7 linked regions of the Homo sapiens genome follow. The protein of the gene in region 3 purifies or fractionates together with the protein of the main gene of each other region. This does not show direct contact. Each region holds a gene or a part of one and is shown on either strand. Other genes may lie near its edges.

Region 1 (2,751 bases), on a different chromosome or scaffold from region 3:
GAACATTTCTCATGCTGTTGTTCTATATGTCTACATTTGGTAAGTTAAAAATTATTTTTCCCTTCCTAAATATAATCCACAATTCCTGAAAGCATGTTTTTCAAGATGCTAGTCCCTCAAGATGCTACTTGAGAATGTAAAAAGCTCTGTTATCACATAACTTTGGGGCACATAGTATACTATATACCACTCCTGAAGGTTTATCATATACATCAGCAATAAATTTACATCTACAACAAACTTATGTATTTAATTTTGTTTAACCATTGTTTTGCAAACATATAAGACTACTAAACCCCTTTCTTGTATAAGACTTGTTAATATCCCATGAAAGAAACTTTGAGAAACAACTATGATTATTTAATCATTTAGAGAAAAAAGGAATAGTGATATTAACTATTTGTTGAAGGCTCCTATCTGCCAGGCATTGTCCTCAGAGTTCTTAGAATTTTACATAAAGTATCTTATTTAAACCTAAAATGAACCTAATAAATACAAGTACTGTGGTCATCCCCTTCTTACAGATGAGAAAACTGAGGTTGAGATAAGTAAATTACTTGCTGAAGTCCACATGGCCAGTGGGGTAAGCATGTGAATTTTGGCAGCCTGTTTACAAAATCCATATACAATCTCCAGTCTCCATGGCATTTAATGGTATGAAAAAAATGTGAATGATGCTATTTGTGAATGTTCAGCTAATAAAAGAATGAGCTATTTTAAGATATTTGGTTATTTTTGTTACATAGATATTGCTGGAATTCCTCTGCCTCAGAACCTGAGTGGATACTCTTTGTTGCCGTTATCATCAGAAACATTTAAGAATGAACATAAAGTCAAAAACCTGCATCCACCCTGGATTCTGAGTGAATTCCATGGATGTAATGTGAATGCCTCCACCTACATGCTTCGAACTAACCACTGGAAATATATAGCCTATTCGGATGGTGCATCAATATTGCCTCAACTCTTTGGTAAGTTTGTTAATATATTTTTAAGTGTAATATTATGTGTAATGAACTGCCCTATGTAGCATTGCTCAAGATATCCAATAATCCTTGTTAAATAAATGAATATCTGCTGCTTCTCATGCTAGGACGATCTACAAAAGGTTGCCCATGTGAGGAACAGCCTCTTTGCAGATCAGCAGCTGAATTTCAGAGAAAGTGTCCTAAGGCTTTTGATCTGGGTCTCATGACTGAAACCAGTTTTCTCTGATCAGGGCATCTTTCAGTACTCATGGTTATCTTTCCCAATTTGAAGTCAACACCTCATTGTACCTCATTGTTCTGAAGGATTAACACCTATCTTATGAAGCCTGACATTTTACATGTATTATTTAATGTTCACCACAACCCCACAAGATAGTACCATTATCCTCATTTTACAGAGGAGTCTATGAGAGAAATTTGGATACCTGTGTGAGGTCTCACAGCTAAGAAGTAGCAGAACTGAGATTTCAACGAAGCTGTGACTGTAAAATTGATGCTTCTTACAGCTTCTAAAAAATGTCTGCCAGCTTCACTACTCTATGAATTAATTTTTAAGCAGCATTTTTAGATTCAGGGTTTTACTCATCCTTTGTCCCCATTTAGTACATAAAATATGTGCTAAAGCCATAAGTAATATTTATTTCTCCCTAAGGCTCCTTCCCAGTTACAAATAGCAAAATTATTATCAAAATAATACTTTGGGGGCCAAACTGGCCAACCCCCTTCACTTGAAGAGTGGAGGATTCTTGGCTGAAAAAGGAAGTCTTTACATTTTCATCCTGATGAGTAATGGGCATCTCTTGCTTGTTCATTGGCCATTGTCAAATGAAATTTATGGGAGGCCATTGTTTTGAACTGAGTTCCTACACCAGGCTCAACAGACCACATCAAACCAGAATGGGGTCACTGGCAGTAGGTGCCCCATAATCAAACTGAACTTTAGAAGAAAAAAAAAAGAGAATCACAATAACCAATCCGAAGGGGCTCATTTTACCTGAACCAGCATAAGGAAGTCTCCTCTGTTTTTACTGGACAAAGAAAGTAACACTATAATGACGAATCTGCTTTTTGTTCCATGTTTCTGGGACTTTTTCATCAGCCTTTTTCTGCCTATAAAGCCCACCTCCCCTGCTCAGCTCATCAGAATGCCTTTTCTAAATCTTTAGAGGGGTTGCTGCCCAATTCAGGAATCACTAAATAAAAGCCAATTTGTTCTTTAAATTTGTTGAAATTTTGTTTTTTATACCATGTTCTACCAAAAAACTGATGTGACTATCAAAATGTCAGAAGTGGGGAATCAGCCTTTTCTGTACTTTTTAGGGCTTATTGATTTCCCTTTCCTAAAGATGTACCATCTGGAAATTACCTAGCAAAGTCACATATCTCTTCAGGGGCCTCTTGGCTACTGCACTTAAGTAGGCCCATAGAGGTTTTTCCCTCAACATACAGTGTTCATTTACTATCTGAAGTTAATTGTCATAAGATCTCTGACTTGCTGTTCTTCCAGTTAGATTGGTATACTAGTTATATCCCTGTCTTCCCATACCATATCTAAAAAGTATCTTTATGGATCTGAAATATTTATCATTATTTTCTTGCTGGCAGTGATTGAGAAGTTTGTATTTCCATGGCTGTTTGTTCAAATGGACAGTACTGATGAATGTAACTTTCAAAACTCCAAGCATAAGATACTAATATATAAAGAAAACTAGGACTAAGTAAAGTTGCAGGAACATGACTTGTCTATATAAAGAATTTGTAG
Region 2 (3,500 bases), on a different chromosome or scaffold from region 3:
GTGTTCCAGCCTGGGTGACAGAGCAAGACTCTGTCTCAAAAAAAAAAAAAAAAAAAAAGAATATTTTCATCACTCCAAAAGAAGACCCATATTCATTAGCAGCCACTTCCCATTCCCCATTGCCCCCCAAAGCTAAATACATTCTCCAAGTGACTCATGCAATAGGTGCTTGGTAGAACCATGGTCTTCCAGTCCAAATAGACCGTGGCTGGCCTGTGTTCTGAACCATTCAGTAAAGATGAACCCATCTCCCACCTCGCCCTGGGCTGCCATCCTGACGTGGCAGTAGGGATTAGATGGCCAAGAATGACCAGGTACTGGGAAGACCAGGCCTCTGTGGAGGCTCCAGATTTCAGACCATGCACCCAAGTGTCTAAGAAAATACAAATGTATTAATTTTTTTTCTCGATAACAAAAGTTTGTCTATGATGATCCCCCTTTCCATCAGGTAGTAGGGACTTGATTTTGGTCAATTTGTGTTTTCAGTTTTGGTCAATTTGTATGTCCTGGTTGGGGGCATAGTTTATGCCAAGGCATGGTGGTGGCGGGGGGCATCTATCCTGCCACCCTGACTGGCATTGCTGGGATGTTCTCATCCCTAACCAATGAGTCCTCTATCCAGATACAGGCTACTGGGCTTCCTCCTTTTATCAACCCTAGGCCAGTTCAGAATGGTGCAGGTCTACATTCCCCTAGAAGCTTGGGAGACATTCTATGGCTCCCCTAATCCTCTCAGCTGTGGGAAAGTCACTTCCATCCCCCTCTTGGGCCTGGAATCATGTTGCTGCCATCCTGCCACACTTTGCCTGAAGAGCTCTGCATGCCTGTCTCAGGGCCAAATGTCTGGACAATCACATAGACACTTCTATGCTGACCTTGGCGGGTGGGCACAACAGGGGAATCCAGGGTCTTGCTGCCACTCTGGACTCTGCCCAAGGACTGAGGACACAGTTTTCTGCTTCTCTTAGATTCTTAAACCTACCTGGGATCTCTTTCTCAAGGTGAGATGGGGAATGGGTCCTTTTAGGGGCTCCCTGCTGCTCTCCCGCTAGTCCTGTCACTCCTCCATCCTAGGAACCCTCCTACGGCTACCAGGATGGGGAAAATATGGTGCATCCTTCCAAATCTTTGCTATTGCAACTAGGCTTGTGAAATGTAAACGCCAAGATGGTTTTATTTCTTTGCTGTGTTTTCCCTGGCATCCCTTCCCAAGTCAAGGAAAGCAGATGTCTAATGCCCCCAAAAGGGAAGGGTATACATGCAACAGGAAACACCAGGAAAGGAAATCTGCTCTATTCTCTCACCATTCTTCCCCTGCCTCACCTTCAGAGCCTCAGCAACACCCCTCGGCAGGGGAGAGGCTGCCTGGGCTCTTCTCTGGATACTTTGATGGGAATTTGGAATTCTCCTGAAGTCAGCCTGAAAAAGAATTAAGTCACACATTATTGTGTGACTCTTCCAATCCCATCTTTTGATCCTGTGTGTGCTACAGGATAAGTTGTCCCAGCCAGGGTTATTGCTCACTTCAAACCACGTGTGAAGAACCTCAGCTTCCTCCTAGCCTGAAGCCAGTGCCTTCTTGCTGTCCCCAGGGCTCCTAACTGCTTCTTTTTCCACTTTCCAGGCAGGTTTTGTGGCGATAAGATCCCGGAGCCCCTCGTCTCCACGGACAGCCGGCTCTGGGTGGAGTTCCGCAGCAGCAGCAACATCTTGGGCAAGGGCTTCTTTGCAGCGTACGAAGGTTTGTGCGAGGTGAAAGCAGCTGCTCGGTGGCCCCTCATAAGCTCTGTCCTTCCCAGGCAGCCCACTGTCCCTCTCCCAGCCCAGACACTCCAGGCCAGAGCCACAGGGGTGGGGGCAGCCACCACAGGGGGCAAGCTGAGGATTCCACAGCCCCTCCTGCAACATTCTGGAAGCAGAGGCCAGCTGTGCCCACTTCAGAAGTAGTGCCATCCTTCTGACGCCATCCCACTCAACCCTCATTCCAGGCCAGCTGAGGAGTCGGCTTCCCCCATACAGGACGGTATTGGGGGGATCTAGAACCCTGTGGAAATGATAGCAGCCTCTGAATTGCTGTGTGAGCCTAAGCAAAGAATCTGACCTCTCTAGGCCTCTGTTTGTTTCCTTTGTGAAAAGAAGACTTTGGGCAACATCAAGGAATTTCCAACTGCGTTTCTTAGAAGGGCCTCTGAGGCTACCCTGGTGGCTGAGTAGAGGGAACCAATAGGTCTGGGCTCTAGGCAGCTGCCACCAGGTGATGGTGCTTCTATTTCTTCTATGTCTTGAGCTTCTCTGGCTCATTCCCCACCCCACCGTACCCTCTACCAAAAAAAAAAAAAAAAAAAGAAAGGGGAAAACTACCAGAAAATTACCAAGGGTCCTTTGGCCTTACATTACCAAGGGTCCTTCGGCCTTAAATTATTACAATTTTAGAGAGGCCAAAGTTTTGTCTTTGTAAAATAAGTAATGTGCATGTGTGCGCATGTGTGCACGTGTGCGCGCACGGGTCCTTTCCTACCAGCGGTCCTGTACTCTCTACCTTGAATCACCTGGGGAACTTCACGGCTACGCAGCGCTCCCCAACACCCACTGGAATCAGAACCTCTGGGGAGTGTGGCCCCAGCTTCCACAGTTTGCAAACTCCCTCAGGCGATTTTGATGCACAGCGAAGTTAGAGAACCACTGCTTTATGTGGTTTTTTCTTTATATGAAAAAAATTCAGAGTTAAAGACAAATGCAATCGTGCCTTTCTGGAGGCGCGGTGTTTGTGGGCTGGAGATGAAAATGTTGGTGAGCGGAGCCACCTAGTGGTGGCAAGCGCTGTTCCCCCCGCCTCCCCAACCTTCCTTCCTAAGTAAGATCTGACCAGGGCCCCCGTCTTCCTCTCCTGATGTCTCTTTCTAAAGCTACCTGCGGGGGAGACATGAACAAAGATGCCGGTCAGATTCAATCTCCCAACTATCCGGATGACTACAGACCTTCCAAGGAATGTGTCTGGAGGATTACGGTTTCAGAGGGGTTTCACGTGGGACTTACCTTCCAAGCTTTTGAGGTGAGTGCTGCTCAGACCGGCTTCCCAAGGAAACGGCAACTTTTGCTAGACATCCTCCACTCTGTAAAGATGGGTTTTCATTTTTGGCTAAAAACAGGAACCTAAGAGGCTATTCTCAAGCCCATAGTGAATTGTGCCCGGACATCTGACATCAACATCTATGCAGGCTTTGAAATGGGGTTTGACACCTTTCTGAGGGCAGTAAGAGAGGTTGAGAATAATAATCAAAGTGAAAATTCAGGATGGGATCCAGGGAAGTTTGGTAGAATTGTTCTTCTCTATTTATCCTCTTAGACTCTTCTCAGTTTGATTCACCCTTGACTTCTGCAAGTAAGGAGTGAACTAGGAAGCAGCATGGAGAGACCTGGGACACACTTGGGTCCTTTGGCCTCTTGGTTAGATTTTGAGAGTGATATTTGGGTTCTCTTCTTAAATCAAAAACCTTAAA
Region 3 (3,500 bases):
TCAGACTTGGTTATTTGAGAGTTATTTCTCTGGAAATGGGCAACAGAGGCTGTCCCCTCAAGGAAGACAACTGACAGTATTCACTGCCAAAATAAAATTTGAGATTTCAAGCAAAAACTGGAATTTTGAAGAACTTGTATCTGCTACACTGAATTTAACGGCTTCCAAAACTTAAGAACCTACTGATGAGATGAAGAGGGCAGGGTATAGTTATAAACAATGTAATTTTTAGCTAAGTGTGAAATGAGTTAATATTTATAAAAATGTATATAATTCAGTCAACTGCTATTTTCTAAATGACCAATAAATGATGCTACAAGATCACACACAGGTAAAAGATACATTCATATCAGTGGATTTCTTATCAGAGTACAAAAAAAGTTCATTAATATTTCAGATTCCACATTGCAACTAACCTTTAAAAACTTCCACTTGTTGAGTTTTGGTATAGAATCAAAAAAGAATATCCTCAGTTATCTGAAAAGGCCATTAAAATACCATTCCTTTTCCCAACTATATATCTGTATGAGGTCATTATTTTCTACATGTACTTAAGCCAAATTATTGCAACAGACTGAGTGAAGGAGGGAATATAAGAATACAGTGATCTTCTGTTATGCCAGATAGTAAACAAATTTACAAAAATACAAAACAATCCTACTCTTCTGTGTGGTTTTCTGGGAAAAACAGTTATTTATATTAACATGCAATAAGTTTATTATTGCTACTTTAAAATAAACTAATAAATATTTTTATATTTTCTCAGTTGTAATTTCTAATAGCATAACCCACATGCTCAAAGGCTTTCTGGAGTCCACAATAATTTTTACAAATATAAGAGTTCTGAAACCAAAAAGTTTGAGAATTGGTGGTCTGCAAATTGGGAAGCATGCATTCTAGTTTCAGCTCTCCTCCTCCATAGCTACATGATACTCTTTCCTCTATGAAATTAAGAGACTGGAACCAGATAATCACTAAGGTCCAAAAAAACTCTGTAATTTTATGTTCCTTACCTTGAAGTTATAGATTTCATTGTAACAATCAGCGCTTTTCAGATACCAGGTTATATTCAAAGACAGGTCACAAGGTTCTCCATCAACTACAAAAGAAGAAATCTTTGTTAACAAAAGATAATTCCCCAACAAAGCATTTTTCCTAAGCTGTTAACCTATATCCTATTCATTTCGTACCCTAAACTGAGATACTCAAAGACCATCCTTTCTCCAAACATAAGGTATTGAAATAATACATGCAAAAAGAGCTGGATATTAAGATAAAAGTATTGTTGTTCATAGAAAAATAGCAGGTAAGCAGTTTTTAACCTCTGGAAACTGTGGATCTATTTTTATGCCATAAAGTCCTAACTTCTGGATCTCTATTGAGAAAAACCTGGGAGTGATAAAGCACTCTAAATTCAAGCCAGTCTTCTATTATTTAAGTATTTATTGAGCAGGCTAGGTGCGGTAGCTCACACCTATAACCCCAGAAGTTTGGGAGGCCAAGGCAGGGGGATCGCTTGAGCCCAGGAGCTCAAGACCACCCTAGGCAACATAGTGAGAACTCATCTCTACAAAAAATGATTAAAAAGCTAGGCGTGGTGGTACATGCTTGTAGTCCCAGCTACTCAGGCAAGGGAGGCAGGAGGATCACTTGAGCCCAGGAGGTCAAGTCTGCAGTGAGCCATGATGGTACCACTGCACTCCAGCCTGGGCGACAGAGCGAGACCCTGTCTCAAAAAACATAAATAAATAAATAAATAAATAAATAGCACAAGTATTACAAAGGTATAATGGCACACTGTTAGGCTAAAGAGGGAAACGAGTGGAAACAAATTATTAAGACCCTTCAAAAGGCTAGTTGAAGAGACAAGCAATAATAAAATTAGGAATGCATGTCACAAGGCAATATTAACAACTGTTAAATGGTGTTAAATGATGATATACATAATAGTTCCACTGAGAGCAAAATTGCTATCTCAGACCTTGAAAGATATCAAGATAGAACAGAAAGAGCAATGAACGAAAAGCAAACATGGCTGTGGAAGGTAGAAATAGCAAAAGCAAAGATAAGAGTATCAGATTTTTTTTTTCAAAGCCTACCTTAAAAGAGGCCTCAAGGAAGCTCATGTTATCATGGAAGCTTCATAAAGCTCATTAAACACAGTTTGGAACACAGTATTCTAATGGATCAAGACATTATTCTGAAGACTTGGGAGGGTAAATCTGACTATATGACTGATTAGCTGGAGGAAGTCAGTATTCGCTTTTATCTTTGATTCTAGCTATGAAAGGAAAAATATACTAAAGACTCCCTACTTTATATAAATGTAATAATAAACATGACAAAAATAAACATGACTGCATTTAGGAATCTACTTTTCATTCATAACAAAAGAAGCAACCTAATTATAAGCTTCCTTTTTTTTTCTTTTAAACTGTTTTCTCAAACTAATTTTTAGATGACCAACACATTTTCAAAGGACTCTATTAGAATGTTCAAAAATTTGACCTGTTGGATAGAATTTATGGAAATGATAAAAAGCAATTGGGCTATGAACTATTCAAAATAATCCATACAGGGACAGGATTAACTAATAAAAAGCCAGTAAGAACACATCCCCCAAACAGGAGACTTGTAAGGAAATTTGGCAGCAAAAATACTGCTGTTTATGTTACAAGACAATATTTAGAACTTTAAATGAAAGGCTTTAAGAGACAATAAGGTCGGGCGCGGTGGCTCACGCCTGTAATCCCAGCACTTTGGGAGGCCGAGGCGGGTGGATCATGAGGTCAGGAGATCGAGACCATCCTGGCTAACAAGGTGAAACCCCGTCTCTACTAAAAATACAAAAAATTAGCCGGGCGCGGTGGCGGGCGCCTGTAGTCCCAGCTACTCGGGAGGCTGAGGCAGGAGAATGGCGTGAACCTGGGAAGCGGAGCTTGCAGTGAGCCGAGATTGCGCCACTGCAATCCGCAGTCCGGCCTGGGCGACAGAGCGAGACTCCGTCTCAAAAAAAAAAAAAAAAAAAAAAATGGTCCCAGCTATTCCATGGAAAGCTATATACCATCCCCCAAAAAGTACAAAATCAAAGACAACTGGTAAATATGAGAAAGCACAGAAATAACAAAGAAAAAGATAATGTTAAAGTGTCTCAGGCCGGGCACGGTGGCTCACACCTGTAATCCCAGAACTGTGGGAGGCCAAGGCAGGCAGATAACTTGAGGTCGGGAGTTCGAGACCAGCCTGGCCAATATGGTGAAACCCCCACCTCTGCTAAAAATACAAAAATTAGCCGGCGTGGTGGCACGCGCCTATAGTCCCAGCTACTCGGGAGGCTGAGGCAGAAGAATCGCTTGAACCCAGGAAGCAGAGGTTACAGTGAGCCGAGATCGTGCCACTGCATTCCAGCCTGGGCGTCACAGCAAAACTCCGTCTCAAAAAACAACAACAAAAAATAAAGTGCCTCAAATCCTCCAAAAACAATGAAATATAAACACTTC
Region 4 (3,500 bases), on a different chromosome or scaffold from region 3:
GGGGTGGCTGCTGTGGCTCGCCGGGGGCATGGAGGCCCCTCCCTCCCCTTAGGAGAAGCTTAGAGACAAGGCCAACACTTTGGCCGAGTGAGACTCTTCCCCTCAAGCTGCTGTGAACTCCTCGGTCTTGGGTCTGCTTAGAGCGTCCTGTTAGGGATGGGAGTCTGTCTGCTGTGGAGCACGGGTTTTGTGTCAGACAGATTGGGGCTCAGGTGCTCTCAGGTCCCAAGCCACGTGGAGCCTGGGTGAGCTCCAACCTCTCTGACCCTCGAGCTCCTCCTCTGGTGGGAATGACAGGGCTCTCAGCACACCGTCGTGGAGATGAAGCATGGGAGGAGTGCAGCCTGGCCTGTGGCACTGAGTGGAAGCTGTCATCTCTGCTGCGAAGTGGGCCAGCAGGCAGCAAGAACACGGGGAAATCCTGCCAGTGTAGGTTCCAGGCTGCCTTCACCACAAGCCTCAGTGGCAATACATGTAAAACCTTGAGTGGTTTTTTTTAAGACATAGTCTTGCTCTGTCACCCAGGCTGGAGTGCAGTGGTGCAATCTTTGCTCACTGCAACTTCTGCCTCCCGGGTTCAAGTGATTCTCCTGCCTCAGCCTCCTGAGTAGCTGGGATTACAGGCACACACTACCAGGCCTGGCTAATTTTTGTATTTTTAGTAGAGACAGGGTTTCACCATGTTGGCCAGGCTAGTCTCGAACTCCTGGCCTCGTGGGATTCACCCACTTTGGCCTCCCAAAGTGCTGGGATTACAGGCATGACCTGCTGTGCCCAGCCTGGTTTTTTTGTTTGTTTGTTTTGTTTTTTAAACAGCTGTTCCACTTGGACTTGTGACTGCCCTTAGGAGCAGTAAGGCTGAGCTTGGAAAACCCTGCAGAGGTGGGGAAGCTTGCACTCTCCAAGCATCTCTAGGGGGTTTTGGGCACAAGTCCAGCAGGAAAACAGGCCTCAGAAGGACAGGTCCTGACCCAGCACCCACTGTGCAACCCTCTCACAGCTGTGGTTACCATTTCGAGGAGCCCAGCCTTCACAGCACCTGTTCCCTTGCACACTGCCCCCCTCACAACCACCCACACAGCATAGCACATATGGCCCCAAGAATGTGCTATCCTGGCCCTCTGACCTAGAGATCTGCTGAGGCTTCAAATCTAGGCTTTACCAAGGGGGAGTTTAGGGGAGTGGGGAAAACAGACCTCAAGGAAGGAGGAGGCAGAGTACAGGGAGGAGCAGCTTAGGGCTGTGTGGACGGCACCGTGAGTCAGGAATGCAGGAGCAGGTGGTCCTGGTATTTCAGCGGGCCATCTCCAGCTGCCAGGCACTGTGTAGTTTAGTCGGCTCCCGGCGGGAGCAGGGCAGGGGCTGGTGGAGCCACTGGTTGGGAGGAACCGGCTGTTCAGGCTGGCCCAGAGCCTATGGGCAGGAGTCGCACTGTGTGTGGACGCCCCACTGGCTGCGGTGCCCCTCGTCTATCCCCCGCCTCATGTTTCCCCCTTTCTCCCGTCCTTTCCCCCCTCCCCCCAATGCCCTACAGCGTAGACCTGGTCCATGCTCAGATCCACGTGGCTGAGGGCAGGAGCCTACCCGACCTGGGCCTGCGGCAGGAGAACATCCGCATCAACGGGTGTGCCATCCAGTGCCGGGTCACCACCGAGGACCCCGCGCGCAGCTTCCAGCCGGACACCGGCCGCATTGAGGTGGGCGGAGCTCGAGCAGAGGGAGATGCCAGCTCACCTGTGCACAGGTTCTGCCTGGTGCCTGGGGCTGCAGTGCCAAGTTGCCACAGCCCGGCAGTTAGGGAGGACCCGCATGTGGGCTCTGAAGTGGACATAGAGTACACGGAGGCAGGCAGTGCCCAGAGGAGGGGCGGCGCCTCCCAGGGGAAGAGACTGCTGGGCGCCCAGGTCAGGAGGAAGCCGTGAGGGTGGGAGCGGGGAGCAGGCTGGCTTGGTGGAGCAAAACGCAGGGACCCAGACACAAAGCCAGCCCCTGACCCTCCAGCTCCCACAGGAGCCCCACGCCTGGCTGCCGACGGAGCCCAAGCACCACCTCCCATCTGAGGGATGGGCTGACATGGCAGGACCTGGGGGTGGGGGTGGCAAAGGACTGGGCCCAGAGGTCCCAATGGAGTCTGAGCCAAGCTCAGGGGCCCATCAAGGATGGGGGAGGGAGTCGGAGATGGCGGCACAGGAGGGAGACCGAGAGGTAGATTCGGGGCCGCGAGATGGCAGCCTTGGTGGGGGAGAGAGTGGTGTAGGGGGCGCTGAGGCGGTCCACGGCAGGCTCCTCAGCACAGCAAGACTCGCGCCTTCTCCAGGAGGGCTCCCTGTACCTTTCTTCCTCTCAGCACCGGGACCCAGTCATTGGCCTCCGAAACCCATCTCCCCCGCCTCTGGTCCCAGCTGTGGGCAGGAGCCCTGCGGCCTGCTCGGTGCCTGTTCCCAGCCCTGCACGTGCTGCCAGCACCGTGCCAGCTGTGCTAGGGACTTGCTCCCTATCCAGGGGCCTGAGCCCCAAAGGAGGCAAGACATTGATGGAGCTCCAGCTTTGCTCCAGAGTCCAAGGCAGAGGCCCCCGGGCTTGTGTGGGGCGGTGAGGGGAGCAAACATGAGTTTGGGCCAGGCTCTGGGCTTCTGAGACAAGGGAGGCTGGGGAGGCTGGGGGTAGGGACCAGAGCTCTCTGGATTCTGGAAGCAGCAGAGCCTGTGGCTTCAGCAGGGAGCTGGCCACCTGCCTTCTGTTTCTGGAAGAGTCTGTAGGTGGCGGCAGCCCCAGGCTGAGTGCTGCCCGGCGGCCCCTGACTTCTCTGCCTCCCTCCATCCCCACTTCCAAGCCCTGGCTCTTCAGAGCCTGCCTCATCACAGAGTATTTTTAGCCGACAGTTTCTGCTCTCAGCTGAGTGTTCACCCTTAAATATTTTATGAAGTTCCTTTTTATTGAACACAGGCCTCTGCCCCCGAGAAGCGGAAATGGGCAGTGGGTGTCCCGAGCCCCTCTGGGCGGTCCCCCCACTCCCCTTCTTCCTTACCTGGGCCTGACGGGTCCCCCACCTCCGGGGAGCCCTTCTCTGCGGGGCTCACTCGGGCGGCACGAACAGGTGCAGGCGGCACGAGCCACCTGTGTGTGTGAGTGTCGGCGCCTCTGTCTCCTCCTCTCCGCTGCCCCTCCCATTGCCGTCTGGCCCTGGCCCTGTCCCGCTGCCCCGCTGCCCTCTCCTCGCCCTTGGTTTGCTTCCCTGATGGGTGTGGACCCTGCCTCTGGCACTTTCCCTTCATTTCCTCTCCCACTTCCTCCTCGTTGCCTCCTCTCCCTCCCATCCTCCCTTCTGGAAGGAAAGGAAAGGAAAGGAAGGGAGCATGGGTGGATGTTGAGGCCTTCCCCACCACCCTGTTAAAAACAAAAACAAACCCCCGGTCAGCCTTGCCTCTTGCCTCGCACATGGTCCTTTGGAGGCCCTGTCGCCGGCCTGCCGTCCCCTCGCTGTCTGGGAGCCCACGGCG
Region 5 (3,500 bases), on a different chromosome or scaffold from region 3:
AGCGGAAGGTCTGCTCGTGCTGGGTCACGTTGTGGAACGGGCAGAACTCATACTTGTACCTGGGGACACAGATGGCATGAGGGGGGTCCGCAGGCTGCGCCCCAGCCCACCCTCGCACCCACCCTGCACTCACGTGGACTCCACCAGGCTGAAGCACTTGCCCGAGAGTCGGAAGAGATGCACGGGTCCTGGAAGAGACCTCACACTGATCCCCAGGGTCCAAGCACAGAACCTGTCTGCAAAGACTGGCAGAGTCTGTTTTCAAAGGACCAGTTTTCTTTTTTTTTGAGATGGAGTCTCACTCTGTCACCCAGGCTGGAGTGCAGTGGCATGATCTTGGCTCACTTCAAGCTCCGCCTCCCATGTTCACGCCATTCTCCTGCCTCAGCCTCCCAAGTAGCTGGGACTACAGGCGCCCGCCACCATGCCCGGCTAATTTTTTGTATTTTTAGTAGAGACGGGGTTTCACCGCGTTAGCCAGGATGGTCTCGATCTCCTGACCTCGTGATCCACCCACCTCGGCCTCCCAAAGTGCTGGGATTACAGGTTTGAGCCACCGCGCCCGGCCAAGGACCAGTTTTCAACAAAAAGCACAAGACGTTCAAAGAAACAGGAAAACAGGTACCATTCAATGGAAGAAACTGACAAAACCGAGAATTCTAAAAATAGCCCTTCAAAAATTAGAGTTAAGGCTTGCTATCGTGGCTCATGCCTGTAATCCCAGCACTTTGGGAGGCCAAGGCGGGAAGATTGCTTGAGGCCAGGAGTATGACACCAGCCTGGGCAACACTGTGAGAACCCCGTGTCTACACAAAAAGCACACAGAAAAAATGAGCTGAGTGTAGTGGCGCGCACCTGTAATCCCAGCTACTCAGGAGGCTGAGGCAGGAGAATCTCTTGAACCCAGGAGGTGGAGAGTGCAGTGAGCTGAGATCGTACCACTGCACTCCAGCCTGCGTGACAGAGCAAGACCCTGTCTTCCCCACCCCCCAAAAAAGAGGACATTCCCAGATAAAAGCTTCAGGAGTTGGTTACATGCAGGCCGGTGTGCCACCCGGGGAAGTGAGCAGACAGCAGCTCAGCGGAGGCAGACGGAGGTCCTCGTGCAGGGTGAATTAATACCAGTTGCCTTTCTAGCTATGGTCTGTAAAGCTACAGGACTTAAACCAGTGGTCCCCAATCTTTTTGGCACCAGGGACTGGTTTCATGGAAGGCAGTTTTTCTACCAGCCGGGGGTGGGGATGGGTGGTTTGGGGATGAAACTGTTCCACCTCAGCTCATCAGGCATTAGATTCTTTTTTTTCTTTTGGAGACAGTCTCACTCTGTCACCCAAGGTGAAATGCAGTGGCGCGATCTCGGCTCACTGCAACCTCCGCCTCCTGGGTTCAAGTGATTCCCCTGCCTCAGCCTCCCGAGTAGCTGGGATCCCACGTGCCCGCCACCACGCCCAGCTAATTTTTGTATCTTCAGCAGAGGCGGGGTTTCACTGTGTTGGCCAGGCTGGTCTGCAACTGTGGACCTGAAGTGATCCGTCCACCTTGGCCTCCCAAGTGCTGGGATTACAGGTGTGAGCCACTATGCCCGGCCTGAAAGACTAACTTCAGATTTAAAGACATAAACAGGTTGAAAGTGAAGGTATGGAAAAGTATTCATATAAACAGGCAAAAGAGAGCTGAAGTGGCTGAAACTATTTTAAGAGACAAAGATGTTATACATTGATAAAAGGGTCAATGTGCCAAGACACCACAATTATCCACGCACAAACAGTGCCACCCACTACATAAAGCTGACATGAGACATCCATACGCCACTTTTTTTTTTTTGAGACGGAGTCTAGCATTGTCGCCAGGCTGGATTGCAGTGGCACGATCTTGGCTCACTACAATCTCCACCACTGGGTTCAACCGATTTTCCCGCCTCAGTCTCCCCAGTAGCTAGGATTACCGGTGCCTGCCATCACGGCTGGCTAATTTTTGTATTTTTGTAGAGACGGGGTTTCTCCATGTTGGCCAGGATGGTCTCAAACTCCTGACCTCAGGTGATCCACCTGCCTCAGCCTCCTAAAGTACTGGGATTACAGGCGTGAGCCCCAGCGCCCAGCCTGATGGATTCAATATTTTTAAGATGACAATACCACCCAGAGTGATCTGCAGATTCAATGCAACCCCATCAAAACCCCAATGACAGTTTTTGCAGAAATAGAAAAACACATCCTAAAGTTCATAGGGAGTCTCAGAGGACCCCAAATCATCGAACAAATCTTAAAGACAGAGTTGAGAGACTCGTACATACTGATTCCAAAAATTACTTCAAAGCTGTTATGATCAAAACAGTGTGATACTGGCATAAAGACTGGCATAGAGGCCGGGCGCAGGGTCTCACGCCTGTAATCCCAGTGCTTTGGGAGGCCGAGGCAGACGGATCACGAAGTCAGGAGATCGAGACCATCCTGGCCAACATGGTGAAACCTGATCTCTAATAAAGTACAAAAAAATTAGCCAGGCGTGATGGCGGATGCCTGCAGTCCCAGCTACTCGGGAGGCTGAGGCAGGAGAATTCCTTGAGCCTGGGAGGTGGAGAGGTTGCCGTGAGCCAAGATCGTGCTACTGCACTCCAGCCTGGGCTACAGAGTTAGACTCTATATGGAAAAAAAAACAAACCCATCAAGGGAGTGAAAAGACAACCCACAGAATGGGAGAAAATAAACACTGGCAAACCACGTATGTAAGAGACTCACATCCAGAACACAGAACTACAGCCCAACAATAAACTCAAGTTAAAAATGGGCAGAGAAGCCGGGAATCCCAGCACTTCGGGAGGCCGAGGCAGGCGGATCATGAGGTCAGGAGTTTGAGACCAGCCTGGCCAACATGGTGAAACCCCGTCTCTACTAAATAAAAATGAGCCAGGTGTGGTGGCTCACGCCTGTAATCCCAGCTACTTGAGAGGCTGAGGCAGGAGAATCGCCTGAGCCTGGGAGGCAGAGCTTGCAGTGAGCCAAGATGGCGCCACTGTACTCCAGTCTGGGCCACAGAGTGAGACTCCATCTCAAAAAAAAAAAAGGACAAACACCATAAGCAACTGAAAAGATCCCACATGACTGATCATTAGGGAAATGCAAATTAAAACAACCCTAAGGTACCGCTTCACACCCACTAGGATGGCTGTTAGCAAAAAACAGTGTTGGTGAAAATGTGGAGAAACTGGACCCCTCGTGCAATGCTGGCTGGAATGGGAAACGGTGCAGCCACTATGCAAACAGTTTGGTGGTTCCTCAAAAAGCTAAACATGGAATTCTAATAAGATCCAGCAAAGCTACTCTCAGAAATTGGAAGCAGAGACTCAAATATTTACACCCAAGTTCACAGCAGCCTATTCCCAGGCAGAGGGTGGAAGCCACTCCAGTGTCCATGGACAGATGACGGGTAAACAACAACGTGGTCTGTCCTTGCAGTGGAACAGTCCTCAGCCATATAAAAAGGAAGCACTGAGAGCCTCC
Region 6 (3,500 bases), on a different chromosome or scaffold from region 3:
TGGTCACCCAACAGACATGGAACTGCCTCACTCCAAGGCAGATCATCCCTCCATGGGCAGCTCTGGACAGCTCTGACTACAGGAAAGTTAGCCAGTCCTTCCTCAAAGGTAGTGTGCCATGACCAGAAGAATATGATTAGCCTACTCCTCTGCATAGGGTTAAAATAAAATACCTTATGCCCCCACCTAAGCTTCCACCTGCTCATCCTGGTTTGGGGCCCTGCATGTTTCTCCACAAGACACACGTGTGCTCCTTTTAAAATCGTCTCCTCTTTTCTCTGAATTACGGGAGGACCAAGATACACGAGGTCTCTTGCTACATGATTTCACTCGGGAATTCTTAGAGGTAGGCTCCACCAGATACGATGACCAGGACCTTGAGGATTTTAAAACTCATTTAGCATTGCAGCCCTCAAAGCTGACGGGAAAATTATAATTCATCTAGCAAATGTTCCTGTAGTGTTTTGGGGTGCCATTCATTTAATGGAGGGTGGGTGTGTTGAACATCCTGCCCTCACCCCTTCAGACCCGCTCCTTCTCCACCGGCCCCCATGTTCCAGGAGGCTGTCCCACACGGGCTCCCTCAATGGGCTCAGCTCCCTTGCCAGTGGCTTCGAGTTGAAGGGGGCTGGGTTTGCCTAATAGGAGGCACCAGAATGATTCAAAGACGGGAGGAAAGGGAGTCAGGTATTTATTCTCCCTCCCATGTCCCCGCCGTTGCCATGGGTTGGCTCTGAGACCCTCCAGTGAGGGCCACAGCTCCTAAGAGACAGCTCCCTCTGCCAGTCTCCAGTTCTCACCCCCGCAGGCTCCCTTCAAGCCTAGGGTGGTCACAGCCCCCTCTGAGTCGCCAGCCCTAGGGTGTGACACCGGCCTTTGTTAGTTCTGCAGAACTCTGCCGGCATGTCCGTAGTCTTAAAAAACTCTCCTTAAATTAAGTTGGAGTGTGTTCTGTTCCCTGCCAGGAACTCTACTGGAAAAAGCATTCTAGAGAGATGACAAGGCAGTAGGTAAAGGAGGTGGGACCTCCCAGCCCTGCATGGTGGAAATGTAGGAGTGGGGCTGGATTGGCGTCGAGAATGGACGAGCTTTCCATATTAAGCCAAGGGGTATGAAATCGCTGGTTCTCTATGTAGGTCTCCGTAGCCCCACGTTCCCATCCTAACGCATCTCTCCTCTCTTCCAGAAAGCTCCTGCTGCTTCTGTACCCCGCCTGTCCCTCCCAGCTGCGCAGGGCCCCTTCGTGGGATCATCAGCCCGAAGACAGGGATGGAGAGGCCTCTGTGCTCCCACCTCTGCAGCTGCCTGGCTATGCTGGCCCTCCTGTCCCCCCTGAGCCTGGCACAGTATGACAGCTGGCCCCATTACCCCGAGTACTTCCAGCAACCGGCTCCTGAGTATCACCAGCCCCAGGCCCCCGCCAACGTGGCCAAGATTCAGCTGCGCCTGGCTGGGCAGAAGAGGAAGCACAGCGAGGGCCGGGTGGAGGTGTACTATGATGGCCAGTGGGGCACCGTGTGCGATGACGACTTCTCCATCCACGCTGCCCACGTCGTCTGCCGGGAGCTGGGCTACGTGGAGGCCAAGTCCTGGACTGCCAGCTCCTCCTACGGCAAGGGAGAAGGTAAACGCTCTGTGCTTTGGATCTGAGTGCTGTCACCTGGCAAGGCCCGGAGTGGCCTTCCCTGAGGTCAGCCTGGGAGAGGAGGCTGCACGCACTGCGAAGTGTAAATTCTTGGTGATGCCCATCCAGGGACTGGCATCCTTCTGTGCCCACTCAGGCTGCACCCTGCAGGAAGGCGGGGTCGGGGGGCTTGAGGAGGGGCACAGTAAGTGACCAACCATACTGATTTGCCCAAGACTTTCCTGGCTTTAGCACAGAAAGTCTCACATCCTGGGAAAACCTCAGGAAAACCAGGACAGTTGGTGACCCCAGGTAGGGGGTGAAATCGGCCTGTGCTCCTCTCTCCGCCCCATATGCCCTGCCTGGGGGCTGCGTCAGCCCAGAGGAAGTTGCGCTTTACTCCAAATCGTTCCCTGTTAGGAAAGCCTCTTGCTCTTCCTCACAATGGCTCCCACATGCTGGAGCTCCCTGACGCCCCCCACCTTCCTGGCATGTGGAGTTCATCGTTTTCACACTAACCTGCTATTGTGGGCTTGGTCACAATAGGCACACAGATGCTTTGGGTTTTTCACCGTTGGTTAGCCTATTCTTTCCTCCCTTGTGAGGTTCAAATTTATTAGTTTATTTTTAAAAATTGTTTTAAGAGCTGGCCAGGCGCAGTGGCTCATACCTGTAATCCCAGCACTTTGGGAGACGGAGGCGGGATGATCACTTGAGGTCAGGAGTTCGAGACCAGCCTGGCCAACATGGGGAAACCCCATCTCTACTAAAAATACAAAAATTAGCCGGGCATGGTGGCGAGTGTCTGTAGTCCCAGCTACTCAGGAGGCTAAGGCACAAAAATCGCTTGAACCCGGGAGGCGGAGGCTGCAGTGAGCCGTGATCGCGCCACTGCACTCCAGCCTGGGTGACAGAGCGAGACTCCATCTCAAAAAAACAAAAAACAAAACAAAAACCCAAAAAATTGCTTTAACAGCTTTGAGGCAGGACAAAGTTTGAAGCCCTGAACCTAGAGCTCAGTCTGTACTGACCTCTGACACCACACTTTGTAGGAAGACGCATGTCCTCTCCAGCCTCATTTTCCCCATCTGGAAGTTGGGCTAAGAACCCCTGAAACCCTGACAGTGTATGTTCCCAAATAGGAAAGAGATAAGGGTGGAGGGAATTGTTTCTTTTTAAACATTTTTCCAGGAGCTAAGAGTTTCCTATCTCTGGGTCAGCCAGGCAAAGGAAGCTCCCACACCCTCCCGCCCGGCTGAGCTGCAGCCCAGACCTCAGCACAAGTCTGGCTACTGGACTAAAGCAGAGCTGCCTATACTCCTGTCCTGGACTAAAGGGCTAATGCCATGCTGACTGCGTAAGAATCGCCCAAGGGAGCTTAAAAGTACAGAATAGCGCAGACCTCAACCCACCATAATCTAGTTTAAAAGGTCTGGGCTGGAGCCCAGGACTCTGTCTCTTTTGGAAGTCTGCAAAGTGACAGGTTTGGGAGTCATTGAAATTGATAACTGTTATCCTCCCTTCCAACTTTTCTGTTATTCTAGAAATTATAGGAGAAAGGAAGTCCCATCTCATACACATCTCACCTCCATGCAATTGAAAATTTCCTTTTGGGGTAACTGGATCAGGAGACAGCACAGAGTCAAATGTTCTCTGCAGCTTGCTCTGGGCGATGAGAGCCACAGCAGTGAAGTTAGCAAATGCTGGGCTTTAGAACCCACTTCCTGTCTTCTTTAAACAAACGTCCGATACTTCCACATCTCTGTTTATCCGGCTGGCTGAGCGATCCAGGGGTAACCTCAGATTCATGTTTTCCATTCCAGGCTTTCCAACGCTCATTATTTTATAACAAATGCTTTCCAGTGACTGGGTATTT
Region 7 (3,500 bases), on a different chromosome or scaffold from region 3:
CCCTCACTGTGCGAAGTCTTCCCTCCCTCATGCCACCCCCAGCCCCAACCTTAAGGGGACAACGAGCACTCCCTCATCCACCCTTTACCTCCATTGCACTTGGAGTAAACCTCAATCCTAGGCCTATTGTTTGCTGACTTGAGTTGTCAGAAGTCAGCCTCCTCCACCATCCCCTGGAAAACAGGAATCTGTGTCTTGGCCAAGGCCACTCCCCTGCCCAGGTGTTTGTGAAGGCCCTGCCCCATGTCCTGCTAATCAGTGCTCTCCCACTGATTGGCTGATTACTTGCAAGCCCCAGAGGAGTCACCTGACCTGTCTAGGCCATAGGTACATCTAGAAGAGAACAATCTCAACTCCTGGGTCTTCAGGAGTGGAGTAGATTTCAGGTGGAGCAAGGCAGACATAGAGCCAGGAATTGCAGCCACAAGAGAGAAACTGAAAGTTCAGCCCACTGTGTTCTGAAACCTTTCACTCATTTATTCCCTGCAACAGTCCCTTGAGGTAGATACTATCATTTTATTCAGCTTGCCAATGTGGAAACTATGGTACAGAGAGGTTAAGTAAATCCCTTCAAGGTTATGTGGCCAGCAGAGGCAAAGCCAGGATCTGAACATGGGTAACACTGGCTCCAGAGCCTTTGTTCTTAAATTCTGTGCTATCCTAGAGCCTACCTACTCCTTACTTAAAACTACAGACGAGGACCCTAGCAAACACTATTTCCCCAGGGTACTTGCCACACCCTCTGCGTGGCCCAGATCCTGGCCCTGGATGTAGTATGCTCCAGTTCTTCCAGGTAGGCTGGAGATTCCTGGAAGCTTGTGGGAGAAGGAGCCTTATAACAACCTCCCGTCTTGGGGACCCTATCCTGGGTCCTGAGCCTCAGGAGCCTGCCTGCAGTCCCTGTTGTAGGCTCTTCCCCAGCTAAGCATCTGCTTTAGGTGTTAGGCCACATGAAGTACGTCATCCCAACAGATTCCTGGGCAAGGAGGAAGGCTGGGAGTCAGGCTTCCATCTGGCCTGGGCTTAGCATCTGAGGGGACTTTCACCCTTCCCTGTGAAGGTTGGAAGAAGAGGGGGCCCCAGAACCTTGCCAGGGAGTCTGAGGTGCAAGGAGTGGAAAGCGGGAGGGACACTGGTCAGGATGATGGAGTCCTGTTACCAAATAGACCCAGAAAGTAGGGCTGCCCACTCCTTCTCAGGGATCAGCAAGTGGAATGTGCTTTTCTGGGGAAATAGGACGAAAGGGCCGGGCGCAGTGGCTCACACCTGTAATCCCAGCACTTTGGGAGGCCAAGGCAGGCGGATCACCTGAGGTCAGGAGTTCGATACCAGCCTGGGCAACCTGGTGAAACCCAGTCTTTACAAAATACAAAAATTAGCCGGGCATGGTGGCACATGCCTGTAATCCCAGCTACTCCAGAGGCTGAGGCCGGAGAATTGCTTGAGCCTGGGAGGCGGAAGTTGCAGTGAGCCGAGATTGCACCACTGCACTCCAGCCTGGGTGACGGAATAAGACTCGGTCTCCAAAAGAAAAAAAAAAAAACAACCATGCACACAAAGGAGAGACCGGAGAATTTGTAGTTTAAAAAGTCCTGGCAGAGGCCGGGTGCAGTGGCTCACGCCTGTAATCCCAACACTTTGGGAGGCCGAGGCAGGCAGATCACAAGCTTAGGAGATCAAGACCATCCTGGCCAACATGGAGAAACCCTGTCTCTACTAAAAATACAAAAATTAGCTGGGTGTGGTGGCCCATGCCTGTAGTCCCAGCTACTCAGGAGGCTGAGGCAGGAGAATCGCTTGAACCCGGTAGGTGGAGGTTGCAGTGAGCCGAGATCGCGCCATTGCACTCCACCCTGGTGACAGAGTGAGACTCTGTCTCAAAAAACAAAACAAAACAAAAAACAAAAAAAGAAGTCCTGGCAGGGCAGGCAGGCGGGTTAGAAGGGTATTCCTGCCTCCTCTTCTCTTATTTGTGTCATGCTGTTTGGTAGTTGCAGGAACCACGAGCCAGAGCCGCCACATTCGAAGGCAGGTGTGCTGACTTAAGGCAGGCTGCCGCCAGATGGGCATGATGGGGAGCGGGTCCTAATCCCACCTCTGCTGCTGGCCAGCTCAGGCATCAAGGGCAGACCGCACAACCTCTGTGTGCCCGAGTTCCAGCTTCTTTAGCTGAGCATCAAGGAGATGAGACTAGCTGATCCAGGAGGCAATTATGGATTCTGGTTAAGAGAGCTCAGGCTTTGAAGTCAGACTGTCTGGATTAAGATCCTGGCTATGTTTCCTCTTAGTCCATGACGTTGAACAGGTTACCTAATCCAAGCTCGGTAACAATCATAGCTCCTACCGCCTGTTGTAAGGATTTTAAAAAGGATCATACATCCTTTTGACCCATGGAAACAATGTTTTTTCTCTTCTAGTTACAAATTTCAGTAACTCTTTTTCCTATACAAATAGGAGATACAGAGGAAATCCTCTCAGTGAGAAATTATCATTCCCTTCCTGCACCCCCTGTCAGTTCCCATTTTGACAGCATTTTGTTATTGTCATTGATGACATTATTAATATAGAAGCAGGAAAAAAGCTCAAATAGATTTCTTTCATCCTCTAGTCTGGTCTGAAAGTTCAAATACCTTCTTTTGCCAACGGTAGTCAGGTGATGTCACCAAGCAAAGAGACCCCTGAGCAGCCCTGAGACTTCCGGATATTTCCTGCACCTGCGGTATTGGAGAAGATGCTGTGAATATCCAGATAGGCTTCTCTCCAAAGAGTCAGAGCTGAAAATACCAGGGAAGTGGTTTTTGGATCCTTCCTGGGGGATCCTGCCAGGGACATGGCCTGGCTCAAGCTCTAGCAGGGGAAGTCTGGTATCAAGTCTCACCTGGCAGGAATTGAGCCCAGAATGGAATATGCTACAGGCAGAGCAGCCTCCCATCTCTCCTCAGCCGACCTGAGTGAGGGGAAGATCAGATAGCCCAGGCTGGCAGGACAAGGAGATTGCAGCACCATGACCAAGAAGGGATTTCCTGTTGAGAGGAAGCAGGGGTTGGCTGAGCTCTGATCACCTTCTTCACAAATCTCTGGGATCATAAGGAACCTAATGGAACCTTCCTCAACAGCTGAGCCTCAGTTTCCCTTTCTGGAAAACCTCCCCCTATACTTCCATACCTCATCGTTCCAGAGATGATTTACAATAATGGCAAGTAAGAGAAACTCTGTAGAGTTAAAGGACTGCAGAAATACATGGGCATTTATGAGATGACATGCACTCGTTTGTTGCAGACCACCTACGATGCTTGCTGGTCACCTACAAGAGTAATCCCAGCTAGCGCTGACCCCATGTGAGAATCTTCAGATAACTTACTTAGTCCTCACCACAACCCTGTCACATAACTGGGATCATCCCCATTTTACACATCAGAGAAATTAGGGGAAAGCCTGGAGGACTCACTAATACATTGCAGCTTCGGGGCGGAGCTGTGAGTCCCTTGCCGCATGTATTG

Evidence for each region.
Region 1: the proteins of TMEM87A (region 3) and ARSK purify together in Homo sapiens (affinity purification with mass spectrometry; one large-scale study listed by BioGRID and IntAct). This does not show direct contact.
Region 2: the proteins of TMEM87A (region 3) and TLL2 purify together in Homo sapiens (affinity purification with mass spectrometry; one large-scale study listed by BioGRID and IntAct). This does not show direct contact.
Region 4: the proteins of TMEM87A (region 3) and PC purify together in Homo sapiens (affinity purification with mass spectrometry; one large-scale study listed by BioGRID and IntAct). This does not show direct contact.
Region 5: the proteins of TMEM87A (region 3) and GNPTG purify together in Homo sapiens (co-immunoprecipitation; one large-scale study listed by IntAct). This does not show direct contact.
Region 6: the proteins of TMEM87A (region 3) and LOXL2 purify together in Homo sapiens (affinity purification with mass spectrometry; one large-scale study listed by BioGRID and IntAct). This does not show direct contact.
Region 7: the proteins of TMEM87A (region 3) and OAF purify together in Homo sapiens (affinity purification with mass spectrometry; one large-scale study listed by BioGRID and IntAct). This does not show direct contact.

The regions. Positions count from the first base shown.
Region 1 is NC_000005.10:95,600,101-95,602,851, forward strand, and holds part of ARSK (arylsulfatase K precursor), read left to right. Parts: intron 1-746; coding exon 747-971; intron 972-2,751. UniProt on the Homo sapiens protein: Catalyzes the hydrolysis of pseudosubstrates such as p-nitrocatechol sulfate and p-nitrophenyl sulfate. Catalyzes the hydrolysis of the 2-sulfate groups of the 2-O-sulfo-D-glucuronate residues of chondroitin sulfate, heparin and heparitin sulfate.
Region 2 is NC_000010.11:96,395,427-96,398,926, reverse strand, and holds part of TLL2 (tolloid-like protein 2 precursor), read left to right. Parts: intron 1-1,624; coding exon 1,625-1,741; intron 1,742-2,906; coding exon 2,907-3,052; intron 3,053-3,500. UniProt on the Homo sapiens protein: Protease which specifically processes pro-lysyl oxidase. Required for the embryonic development. Predominant protease, which in the development, influences dorsal-ventral patterning and skeletogenesis.
Region 3 is NC_000015.10:42,266,934-42,270,433, forward strand, and holds part of TMEM87A (transmembrane protein 87A isoform 1 precursor), read right to left. Parts: intron 1,100-3,500; coding exon 1,014-1,099; intron 1-1,013. UniProt on the Homo sapiens protein: Potential monoatomic ion channel gated by mechanical force, implicated in normal touch sensitivity through the generation of mechanically activated currents.
Region 4 is NC_000011.10:66,864,384-66,867,883, reverse strand, and holds part of PC (pyruvate carboxylase, mitochondrial precursor), read left to right. Parts: intron 1-1,534; coding exon 1,535-1,697; intron 1,698-3,500. UniProt on the Homo sapiens protein: Pyruvate carboxylase catalyzes a 2-step reaction, involving the ATP-dependent carboxylation of the covalently attached biotin in the first step and the transfer of the carboxyl group to pyruvate in the second.
Region 5 is NC_000016.10:1,358,431-1,361,930, reverse strand, and holds part of GNPTG (N-acetylglucosamine-1-phosphotransferase subunit gamma precursor), read right to left. Parts: intron 189-3,500; coding exon 134-188; intron 60-133; coding exon 1-59. UniProt on the Homo sapiens protein: Non-catalytic subunit of the N-acetylglucosamine-1-phosphotransferase complex, an enzyme that catalyzes the formation of mannose 6-phosphate (M6P) markers on high mannose type oligosaccharides in the Golgi apparatus.
Region 6 is NC_000008.11:23,366,121-23,369,620, reverse strand, and holds part of LOXL2 (lysyl oxidase homolog 2 precursor), read left to right. Parts: intron 1-1,186; 5' UTR 1,187-1,269; coding exon 1,270-1,624; intron 1,625-3,495; exon of another isoform or gene 3,496-3,500. UniProt on the Homo sapiens protein: Mediates the post-translational oxidative deamination of lysine residues on target proteins leading to the formation of deaminated lysine (allysine).
Region 7 is NC_000011.10:120,221,032-120,224,531, forward strand, and holds part of OAF (out at first protein homolog precursor), read left to right. Parts: intron 1-3,500.